Linked DNA regions of Homo sapiens. The protein of the gene in region 3 purifies or fractionates together with the protein of the main gene of each other region. This does not show direct contact. Each region holds a gene or a part of one and is shown on either strand. Other genes may lie near its edges. The genes, in order: GALNT1, EIF2B3 and P2RX4.

Region 1 (3,750 bases), on a different chromosome or scaffold from region 3:
ACTTTTCAGCTGCATATAATCTTATGGGACCACCATTGTACAGGTGACCCATCATTGACCGGGGCATGGCTGTAAATAGATCCTACAATACAGGCTCTTACACATCTAGCTTCTTCCACTTAGCTTATCGTTTTTGAGGTTCCTCTATGTTGTATCTTCTATGACTACTTCGTTCCTTTTACTGAGTAGTAGTCCACTGTATGGCATATACTGCATTTTATCCACGCAGCAGTTTCTGGACATTTGGACTGTTTCTACTTCTTGGCTATCATGAATAACACTGTTATTAATATTCATGTACAAGTTACTGTATGAATTTATCTTCAGTTCTCTCAGGCATACGCCTAGGAGTGGAATTGTTGGGTGATAGAATACTTCATGTGTAACTTTTTAAAAAACCTGGAAAACTGTTTTCCAAAGTGGCTGCACCATTTTACATTTCCATAGGCAACGTATGAGGGTTCTAATTTCTCCATCTCTTCACCAACACTGCTATTGTCTGTCTGTCTTTTGTACTACAGCCAGTGTAGTGGGTGTCAAGAACTTCCTTGTTGTGCTTCTAATTTGCATTTCCCTATTAACTAATGATGTTGAACACCTTTTTATGTAATTGTTGATCATTTAAATATCTTTGGTAAAACGTCTATTCAATTGTTTTGCCCATTTAAAATTGGACTATTAGTCTTATTACTGAGTTGTAAGAGTTCTTCATACATTCTGGCTACAAGTCCTTTAACAGATATATGATTTGCCAATCTTTTCTCCCAAGATAAGAGTATTTTTTAACGATGACAACTTTATTCCAAAGTGAAGTTTCCTTGTGGAACAGTAACAGGCTAGTCATGATTGACTTTGTTTCAAAATATTATATAAGTACTTTTAAAATAGTAACTTTTAACTTTTATTTTAGAATACTTGGAAGATGTAGACAAGCAAAAACAGGATACTAAAATTCCAGAGATAATCTTCAGGTTTTTTTTTTTTTTTTTCGGACAGCCTTTTGGTTATGTGAGAGGTAATATAAATTTAAAAGTGGGACCACTTAAATATTAAGTAATCTCTTATTGCAGCTCTTGGTTGGCAAGCAATAAGACACAAACCTCTGAATTATTTAAGTAGAAAATTAATTTATTAAAAGAATGGTTGGTTATGCCTCGCGTGAGTGACAGAGCCAGGGTTTTGTCTTCTATCTTCAGGGCAGGGTACAGCTGGGTATTGGAATTGTACCAAGCAGTGTTTCCCAAGGGGGCACAGAGGGAGGGCCCCTCTCCGGGCACTGTGCGGGAGCCACTTCCCCAAACAGTCCCCGTTCTGCAAGGGCCCCGGCGTTGCTGCCCCCGAGACCCGGGTGCCTGCCCCGGCGGTGCGGGTCGCGGGCCTCCGCTCTCGCCGTCCTCCCTCAGTCCCGGGCCTCCTGCATCGCGGTCGCCAGGCGCAGGCTCAGCGCGGCTGACAGCGCTCCAGCTCCCGCGCTCGCGGCCGCCTCAGGCAGCCGACCGGGTTGGGGCGGCCCCGCGCTCGGCCCGGGAGCCGATCCGCTGTGAGGGCTCCTCCATCTCCTCCCACCCCGTGACCTGCTCGACGCGCAACAGCCCGAGTTGTCTTTAACTTGCTGCGGCAGCCTCTTTGTCCCGACCCAGGGTCGGGGGCACCTCTCGGCCTGGCCCGGCCCTGCCCGTAGCCGTGTGAGCGGGGGCCGGGACTGGGCGGTCGGTCCGGGAGGGGCGCCGCGCCCGACCCCGGAGTCCCGAGCCCGAGGGGAGCGTCGCGGCCCCGCGGTGGGCTCGCCGCAGCGGAGGGGGCGCGCATCCGGGTGAGCGCCGGCGCCCCCGCCTCCCCCGCGCAGCCGCACGGGCCGCCGCCGCCGCTGCCGCCGAGCACGCAGCGCAGGGAGGACCGCGCCCGAGCGCCTGCGGGCGCCCTGCGGCGCCCGCCGCGCGACGAGCCCCAAGTGAGCGGGCAGGCGGCGCGCATGCGGGGCGGCCCGGAGTAGCGCCGCCCGAGCCCGCGAGCGGGGCGCCCGGAGTAGCCGCCGACCCGAGCCGGGCGCGGAGGCGGGGGCGGGCGCGGCGGAGCGGGGCCCGGCCGGACCCGCCCGCCCGCCGGGGGAGCCGCCGGCAGTGGCCGAGGAGCGCGCGGCGGACGGCGGCCCGAGAGTAGCGCGCTGGCCGCGGGACCGGCCGCGACCGCCGCGGCCGGCCCGGAGGACGCCTGCCGCCGCCGCCGCCGCGCGCCTAGCGAGGTGAGTGTATCGCCCGCGGCTGGGCAGTCCCGGAGCCGCAGCGCTGCGCGCGGGTCGGAGGTGGAGAAAGAGGCCCCGCCGCGGCCGCGTCCCCGGTCCCTTTGTGGCCGGCGCTGCCTGGGGCCGGGGCGCGGGCACGCTCGGCGCGGGTTCGGGTCTGGGACCCCGGTGCCGTTGGACACGCGGCGTCTCTGGTTGGCAGCTTTGGCGAGCAGCGAGTTTCCGTCCTAGTTTGACATTGAGTTAGAACCGTTTTTCTTTAGAAGACGGAAGTTTGTTTTATTGACAAAAATAAAGCTAAATATGGCTTCTGGGTTCGGCCGTGTGGTACTTGCAACCGCGGTGCCAGCCTGACCCTCGCGGCGCCACGGGGGAGGGGAAGACACGCCGGCAGCGGGGGAGGGGGCTTCCCGGCCCGCTGCCCCCGAGGAGGACCCGGACCTAAATTAGCAAATGTTTGTGGTTGGGAAGTAGCGGGCTTTAGGTAATGTAGTAGCTTTTCCGCTTTTCCTGGAAGAATGAATGAATGAGATGTCATTTACTCATCCATAATCAATACGTTGCCCATTTAAGCATTTACCAGGAATTGGGATGATTTGCATTGTCATTGCTTCTCTTATCTGGTCAGCCTTGCTAGATGAGGTTCCCTTACTCCCCAGATTTGTGACCTTGTCCTCATTCTCAAAGCCACTGAGCTAACCAACCCGTCTACCAAACTCACTTGGCATTTTTTTGGTCAAGTGGGCAATAGGCAAAGTAGTCTTTCTGAACTGTTTCTGGAGGGCAGAGAATGTCACTTTGATCATATCTTATGTTTAATACATTGCTTTATAATCGTGTCAAGAACGCTGAGAGTTAGGAGGTCTTGTCATTTCACAGATGAAATAGTGAAGGCCCTAAGAAGTTGCAACTTTTCAGGTCACAATCTGAGCAGCAGAGTTGGGATTCAAACCTAGACCTTGTTAGTCCAGTCCTCTTTACATCACATCTGTGTCCAGACCTGGACTGTCCAGCGTGGGAGCCACTAACCACATGTGACTATTAAAATTAAATTTTAAAAATTCAGCTCCTCGGTCACAGTAGCCACATTTCAAGTGTTCCATAGCTAAATGTGGTTCTTTGCTACAGTTGAACAGCCCTGGTCTAAATTATACATACATTTGTTGTGTCAGTAAATATTTACTGAATGCGATCTGTCTATGAGGCACAGTTTTAAGTTCTGGGTACATGGTGAATAAGGGAGACACAATGTCCTTGCCCTATTGGAATTGACATTTTACATGATCCTTTGAGGATGTTTCCATGGTACTCCGAGTCCTGCTATTCCAAGTGTGGATGGTGTACCAGCAGCATCCCTGTCACCTCAGACTCAAGTAATGCAGAATGTGAAGCCCCGCTGCACATCAACTGAATCAGTATCTGCTTTACCAGGATTTCAAGTTATTTGTGTGCACTTTGAAACCTGAGAAGCCTTTGTTCAGCGTGCTGGTGATAACTGCGTTTAATGA
Region 2 (3,750 bases), on a different chromosome or scaffold from region 3:
CTCGGGAGACTGAAGCAGGAGAATTGCTTAAACCTGGGAGGTGGAGGTTGCAGTGAGCTGAGATCACACCACTGTACTCCAGCCTGGGCGACAGGGTGAGACTCCAACATTTTAAATCTTCATTCAATACAAAGAGAGAGCTATTAAGCTACCACCCTTCCTATTGGAGGCAACTCTAATAATGGAATGAACACTGGATCACAAGACTGGGCCTCAGGCTTTGGCACCCTGATTTATTACATCTAAATATAGGACACCTCAAACTCAATGTGACCAAAGCTGAACTCATTATTTTAATGAAAATAAAATTCATTAAAACCTTTTCCTGGCCAGGCACGGTGGCTCATGCCTGTAATCCCAGCACTTTGGGAGGCCGAGGTGGGCAGATCACGAGGTCCTGAGATCGAGACCATTCTAGCTAACATGGTGAAACCCTGTCTCTACTAAAAATACAAAAACTTAGCCGGGCATGGTGGAAAATGCCTGTAGTCCCAGCTACACAGGAAGCTGAGGCAGGAGAATCACTTGAACCCGGGAGAGGTTGAACCCTGGCGGAGGTTGTAGTGAGCCAAGATCGTGCCACTGCACTCCAGCCTGGGTGGCAGCGTGAGACTCTGTCTCAAAAAAAAAACACCTGTTCCTTGTCTCCTATTCCTTTTCCTACTTAATGGCATAACTATCTACCTAGCTACCCAAGCAAAAAGTAGAGAGGATCACTAGACTTTAAAGTTCTGGAAGTCAGGGCCTGAGCTGTCTTTTCAATTCTGTACCTCCGTGTTTAATATATAACCTGGTACTTACATCAAAACAAAATTTAAAACATATATATATTGAATATCAGATAATATAAATATTACCTGGTACATAATAGATTCTCAGTAAGTACTGACTATGAGGCATTTAAGAGTCTCAATCTGCTCTTTCTGATATCTTTACAGAGTTCGTCTTGGATCATTGTGGACATCAGCTCCATAACAACAACACTTAGTGCTATCCTCTCAACCTTTTTCACACAGCAATAGAGTACTCCTACATTCCTTAAAGAAGGCAGTCTTCAGCCAACGAGTTCTAGTCACCCTCTCTCATTCTCATAACGCTGACAAATCATGGGGATCAAATCTCCTAAAAGTTTTATGAGTTCACAGCTCACTTTGTCATAGCTCACCTTCAAATCCAACACGCTCAAGCAGGTTCAATGGGTACCAAATTAAAGGTTTGTTCCCAACTGGAAGCAGAGGTTTGGGAATGCTGGAAGTTAGGTCTGTCATCCGAGATCCTCCACCTACTGCCATCACTACTGCTTGAAATTCCATTTTTACAAACTGCAAGTACAGAAAAAACAATTAACAGAAAAAAAACAATGTAACAAAAATCAAAGCACACATACTACTAGCCTATTTTTATTTAGGTTACTGATACCCACTATGTCAAATGCATAATTCCTAACTCTAGCAATCACAGTAAGAAAAGCTTAGCTGCAGATAAACATTATGTCTACCAATATGTATTCTCAGTTCTATCCTTGGTAAAAGTGGGAGGATAGGAATGCAGGGGCTTTGCCCTTGAGTTATTCACAATTAAGTGGAGAAGACAAATTCAGTAAATCACAATATATGTCATTAGTGCCACAGCAGAAAAATATCCAAGATACAGTGGGCATACAATAAAAGGAACACCTAGTTTTCATTGAAAACACAGAGAAGTTTTTATAGAAAGTGATGCTTGAGCTGACTCTGAAGAAGTAAGAGTTTACCAAGTGGACTTCTGATGTGTGAATTTTTATTCTTTGAAAATATTAGGCTGGGTGAGGTGGCTCACATCTGTAATCCCAGCACTTTGGGAGGCTGAGGTGTGTGGATCACATGAGCTCAGGAGTTCGAGACCAGCCTGGGCAACATGGCGAGACCCCATCTCTACCAAAAATACAAAAAATTAGCCAGGGGTGGTGGCTTGTGCCTATGGTTCCAGCTACTTGGGAAGCTGAAGTGGGAGGATCATTTGAGCCTGGGAGGCAGGTGTTGCAGTGAGCCGAGATTGAGATTGGACCACTGCACTCCAACCTGTGTGACAGAGTGAGATCCTGTCTCAAAAAAAAAAAAAAAAAAAGAGAGAAAAAAGAAAATATTAAAAGATGCCTGACTAGAATTAACAGCAGAAACACAAGCATGTTAGGCTTCTGAAAAGTATGAAATGACTTAAGACTCCTCCAATAATTCAGCCATCGGCTCATCTTATTCCTCCAATTTTTAAAGATATCACTATAAACACAAACGTAGGCTTGTATCTGAACCTAGATTTACAGAACACAATTATAAAAACAAACCAAACTGTTAATTCCTTTTTTCAAACTCAAGGTAATAAACAAACCTATTTGACTTTGAAAAGAATCTCTTTACAGAAACTACCACAGAACAGAGGCACAGTAGAAGGTCATAAATCTTTATTTATGTATTTATTTTTGGAGATGGAATTTCACTCTTGTTGCCAGGCTGGAGTGCAATGCCGTGATCTCGGCTCACTGCAACCTCCACCTCCCAAGTTCAAGCGATTCTCCTGCCTCAGCCTCCCGAGTAGCTGGGATCACAGGCATGGGCCACCATGCCTGGCTAATTTTGTATTTTTAGTAGAGATGGGGTTTCACCATGTTGGCCAGGCTGGTCCCAAACTCCTGACCTCAGGTGATCCACCGGAGTCGGCCTCCCAAAGTGCTGGGATTACAGGTGTGAGCCACGTGCCCATCCTATTTATTTATTGTTTATTTAGAGACAGAGTCTTGCTCCATTGCCCAGTCTGGAAGTGCAGTGGTAAGATCATGGCTCACTGCAGCCTCAACCTCCTGCACTAAAGCAATCCTCCTGCCCCAACCTCTGGAGCAGCTGGGACTACAGGTGGGTACCACCATGCCTGGCTTTTTTTTTTTTTTTGAGACGGAGTTTCTCTCTTGTTGCCCAGGCTGAAGTGCAGTGGCACGATCTCAGCTCACCACAACCTCTGCCTCCCAGGTTCAAGTGATTCTCCTGCCTCAGCCTCCCAAAGAGCTGGGATTATAGGCATGCACCACCACGCCCAGCTGCCCAGCTAATTTTGTATTTTTAGTAGAGACAGGGTTTCTCCACATTGGTCAGGCTGGTCTCGAACTCCCAACCTCAGGTGATCTGCCCACCTTGGCCTCCCAAAGTGCTGGGATTACAGGTATGAGCCACTGCACCTGGCCGCCTGGCTAATTCTTTTAATTAATTTTTTATAGAGATGGGGTTTCACTATGCTGCCCAGGCTGGTCTCAAACTCCTGGCCTCAGGCCTCCTGCCTGGGCCTCCCAAAGTGCTGAGATTAGAGGCATGAGCCACTGCACCTGACCGATCTTTACTGATTTAAACTGAAAGTACTTTCTCTTACAATGATGTAATTTTAAGAACAAATGTGTTAAAATGTAACGTTCAGAAGAAACAATCTATTCAACATCAAATTGCCAAATAATGTTGCAACTTTACTATAATTATTATTACTCCTGGGCCCAGCACATCAACATCTAAAGTGCAGCACTTAACACCTACTATACCCAAGGCACAAAGTGAAGGCTCCTGCATAACATTCACAATGTAAAGATATGGTCATGTAGATTCTAGCAAGCATTGCCTCAAAGTGTAATTTAATTTCATTTTGGTATTATATAACATCCACCACATCAAATGTTATTATGAAAAGAGCACTGGACCCTTAAGAGTCAAAAGATGAGCTGGACGTGGTGGC
Region 3 (3,750 bases):
GCTCACTGCAACCTCCGCCTCCCGGGTTCAGGCAATTCTCCTGCCTCAGCTTCCCAAGTAGCTGGGATTACAGGCATGCGCCAACACGCCTGGCTAATTTTGTATTTTTAGTAGAGACGGGGTTTCACCATGTTGGCCAGGCTGGTCTCGAACTCCTGACCTCAGGTGATCCACCCACCTCGACCTCCCAAAGTGCTGGGATTACAGGCGTGAGCCACTGCACCTGGCCCTTTGAGCACTTTCAATGCCTGTGACCTATGGGAATCACCAAGAGATAATACAAATTATAACAGTTACCACTGGAGTGTTTATAGGCACCAGGCACTGATCTAAGCTCTTTATATGTATTAACTCATTTAATCCTGACCACTTTATGAGACAGGTATCATTATTATTATTTCCATTTTACAGAGGAGGAAATGGAAACACAGAGAGGTTAAGTCACTTGCCAAAGGTCACACAGCTAGTGAGTGGCAGAGTCAGGATTTGAACTCAAGCCAGAAGCATCTGAAGCCTCTTCTCTCACCCACTATGCTCTACTCTAAGCTTGTCTAACCCATAGCACACAGGCCGCATGCGGCCCAGGATGGCTTTGAATGAGGCCCAACACAAATTCGTAAACTTTCTTAAAACGTTATGAGATTTTTTTTTGTGTGATCAAAAAAAGTTTGTTTTTTAGCTCATCAGCTATTGTTAGTGTTAGCATATTTAATGTGTGGCCCAAGATAATTTCTCCTTCCAGTGTGGCCCACGAAAGCCAAAAGATTGGACAACCCTAGGCTACTCTTTCTAGAAAAGAGAATTCTACCCTTTAAGGAACTTTTAAGAGTAGTTTCTTACTTTTCCCCCAAGAATTCTGGTCACATATATGGTTCTCTCCTCTGAAGTGGGACTATGACTACCAGTTTGAACAATTAAAAATCCAAAGGGGCTGGGTACAGTGGCTCACGCCTGTAATCCCAGAACTTTGGGAGGTCAAGGGGGGAAGATCATTTGTGCCCAAGAGCTCGAGACAAGCCTGGGCAACATAGGGATCTCTACAAAAAATAAAAAATTAGCCGGGCATGGTCAGTTTTGATTATAGCAAGATGGACAAAAGCAAAGCATTTACTGCTTTAAAGATTCTCGTGACTGAGACAGTGAATACGTCATAAGGAATCCTACAGAGCTGTGCTGTCCAATAAAAATCCCGGCTATTTGGGAGGCTGAGGTGGGAGGATCACTTGAGCCTGGGAGACGGAGGCTGCAGTGAGCTGTGATGCCACCGCACTCCAGCCTGGGCGACAGGGCAAGGCTCTGTCTCAAAAAAAAAAAAAAAAAAAAAACCATCTACAGGCATTAGCTTATAGGGGTTAGGACAGACTGGAGGCAGAGGTCTTGGTTCATGGCTCAGCTCCACCATTCACGAGGCATAACTTTGGCCAAGGTGCTTAACCTCATTGTGCCTCAGTTTTTCCCATCTATAATCTGGGAATGATAGTAGATCTTCACAGGATTCTTGTGAGGGTAAAAGAATTAATGTAGGTCAAATGTTTACAACAATGTTTGTGAGTCATCGTTGGTCACAGAGCAAGTACTGACACCGTGGAAATTGGCCAGTACTACAAATCAGAACCCCTCCCCTTCGAACTGCTGTTAAACATCTACTAGAGACTATCAGTGTTGTTATTTATAGAATCAGGAAATGCTAGGCTTCTCCTTCTTCTAAGTCCTAGATGCTGAGACTTCAGAAATTCACTGGTTTTGTTGAGGTCAGGAGTCCAAGACCAGCCTGGCCAACATTGTGAAACCCCGACTCTACTAAAAATACACAAAATTAGCTGGGTGTGGTGGTGGGTGCCTGTAGTCCCACATACTCGGGAGGCTGAGGCAGGAGAATCACTTGAACCCGGGAGGTGGAGATTGCAGTGGGCTGAGATCATGCCACTGCACTCCAGCCTGGGCAAGAGTGAGACTCTGTCCCTCCACCAAAAAAAAGAAAAGAAATTAATGGTTTTGTTACTTATGAGTGTGTGTGATCGAGCAGTCTCCAAGTTCATTGCCCAGCCTAGAGATGGGCTTTCCCCCCATGGGCTTTTCCCCTGACAAGTCCAGGGCTTCTAGGAATTCAGCTGCAGTGTAAGCTTCCATTTAATTCCAGTCTGACACACAAAAGCTTGGGGCAGGAAGACTGATGTACTCATCAAGTACAGTGAGTTGCTTAATTTAGAGACACAGGGTTTCATGCCACTCATTATCATGTGATTATTTCCTCCTCATATGATTGTTAACAGAGTTAGATAGATGAGAATTGCGTGTTCGGTCTTTTTTTGAGGGAGGGTTGCTGTAGGAGGAGACCACAATTTCACTAAGATGAGTTGCATCAAAAAGTTAAGAGATGAGGTTAAAAAAAAAAAGAGCCTTAATGCAGGTCCTGAGTCAGTTTTGATTATAGCAAGACGGACAAAAGCAAAGCATTTACTGCTTTAAAGATTCTCATGACCGAGATAGTGAATGCGTCATAAGGAATCCTACAGAGCTGCGCTGTCCCATAAAAACATAACGCGAGCCACATATTTTTTTTTTTGAGACAGGCTCTCGCTCTGTCGCCCAGGCTGAAGTGCAGTGGCACAATCTTGGCTCACTGCAACCTCCGCCTCCCAGGCTACAGCAATCCTCCCACCTCAGCCTCCCAAGTAGCTGGGTCCACAGGTGTGCGCCACTATGCCAAGCTAATTTTTCGTATTTTTGGTAGAGATGGGGTTTCACTACGTTGCCCAGGCTGGTCTCAAAATTCCTAAGCTCAAGGGATCCACTTGCCTCAGCCTCCCAAAGTATTGGGATTACAGGCGTGAGCTACCACAGGGCAAGACCCTGTAATTTAAAAGTTTCTAGTAGCCATGTCAAAAAGTAAAAAGAAATAGAAAGGGCTGGGCACGGTGGCTCATGCCTGTAATCCCAGCACTTTGGGAGGCCGAGGCAGACAGATTGCTAGAGCTCAGGAGTTCGAGACCAGCCTGGGCAACATGGAAACCTCATGATTGTAGAGATGAGATTTCTCATCTGTACAAACAAACAAACAAAAACACAATAATTAGCCAGTCATGGTGGTGTGCACCTGTAGTCCCATAATTCCAGAGGCTGAGATGGTAGAATCACTTGAGCCTGGGAGGCAGAGGTTGCAGTGCATTGCACTCCAGTCTGGGTGACAAAGCAAGGCGCCGTTTAAAAAGAAAAAAAGAAAAAAGAGACAGGAAAAATTAATTGTAATGATATATTCTGTGTAACCCAATATATCCAAAATATTTTAACATGTCATCAATAAAAAATGTTTTCATGTGATAGTGGTACTCTTTGTTTTTTTGAGACAGTGTCTTGCTCTGTTGCCCAGGCTGGAGGGTGGTGTGATCACAGCTCTCTGTGGCCTCAACCTCCCAGGTTCAAGCAGTCCTTCTGCCTCAACCTCCCAAATAGGTAGGCCTATAGGCGTGTGCCACCATGCCAGGCTAATTTTTGTATTTTTTTGTAGAGGCAAGGTCTCGCTATGTTGCCCAGGTTTGTCTCAAACTCTTGAGCTCAAGCGATCTTCCCACCTCAGCCTCCCAAAGTACTGTGATTTCAGGCATGAGCCACTGTGCCCAGCCTCTTTTTCTGTACTATGTCTTTGAAATCCAGTGTGTATTTTAAGGTTATAGCACATCTCAGTGTAGAGTAGGAACGGTTAAGTGTTCAACAGGTGCAAGTTACTAGTGGCTACCATACAGTGCAACA

What was found.
Region 1: the proteins of P2RX4 (region 3) and GALNT1 purify together in Homo sapiens (affinity purification with mass spectrometry; 3 studies listed by BioGRID and IntAct, with this or other methods). This does not show direct contact.
Region 2: the proteins of P2RX4 (region 3) and EIF2B3 purify together in Homo sapiens (affinity purification with mass spectrometry; 3 studies listed by BioGRID and IntAct, with this or other methods). This does not show direct contact.

Annotation. Positions count from the first base shown.
Region 1 is NC_000018.10:35,579,621-35,583,370, forward strand, and holds the start of GALNT1 (polypeptide N-acetylgalactosaminyltransferase 1), read left to right. Parts: upstream 1-2,119; 5' UTR 2,120-2,242; exon of another isoform or gene 2,243-2,248; intron 2,249-3,750. UniProt on the Homo sapiens protein: Catalyzes the initial reaction in O-linked oligosaccharide biosynthesis, the transfer of an N-acetyl-D-galactosamine residue to a serine or threonine residue on the protein receptor.
Region 2 is NC_000001.11:44,979,856-44,983,605, forward strand, and holds part of EIF2B3 (translation initiation factor eIF2B subunit gamma), read right to left. Parts: intron 1,323-3,750; 5' UTR 1,314-1,322; coding exon 1,166-1,313; intron 1-1,165. UniProt on the Homo sapiens protein: Acts as a component of the translation initiation factor 2B (eIF2B) complex, which catalyzes the exchange of GDP for GTP on the eukaryotic initiation factor 2 (eIF2) complex gamma subunit.
Region 3 is NC_000012.12:121,213,018-121,216,767, reverse strand, and holds part of P2RX4 (P2X purinoceptor 4), read right to left. Parts: intron 1-3,750. UniProt on the Homo sapiens protein: ATP-gated nonselective transmembrane cation channel permeable to potassium, sodium and calcium. CTP, but not GTP or UTP, functions as a weak affinity agonist for P2RX4.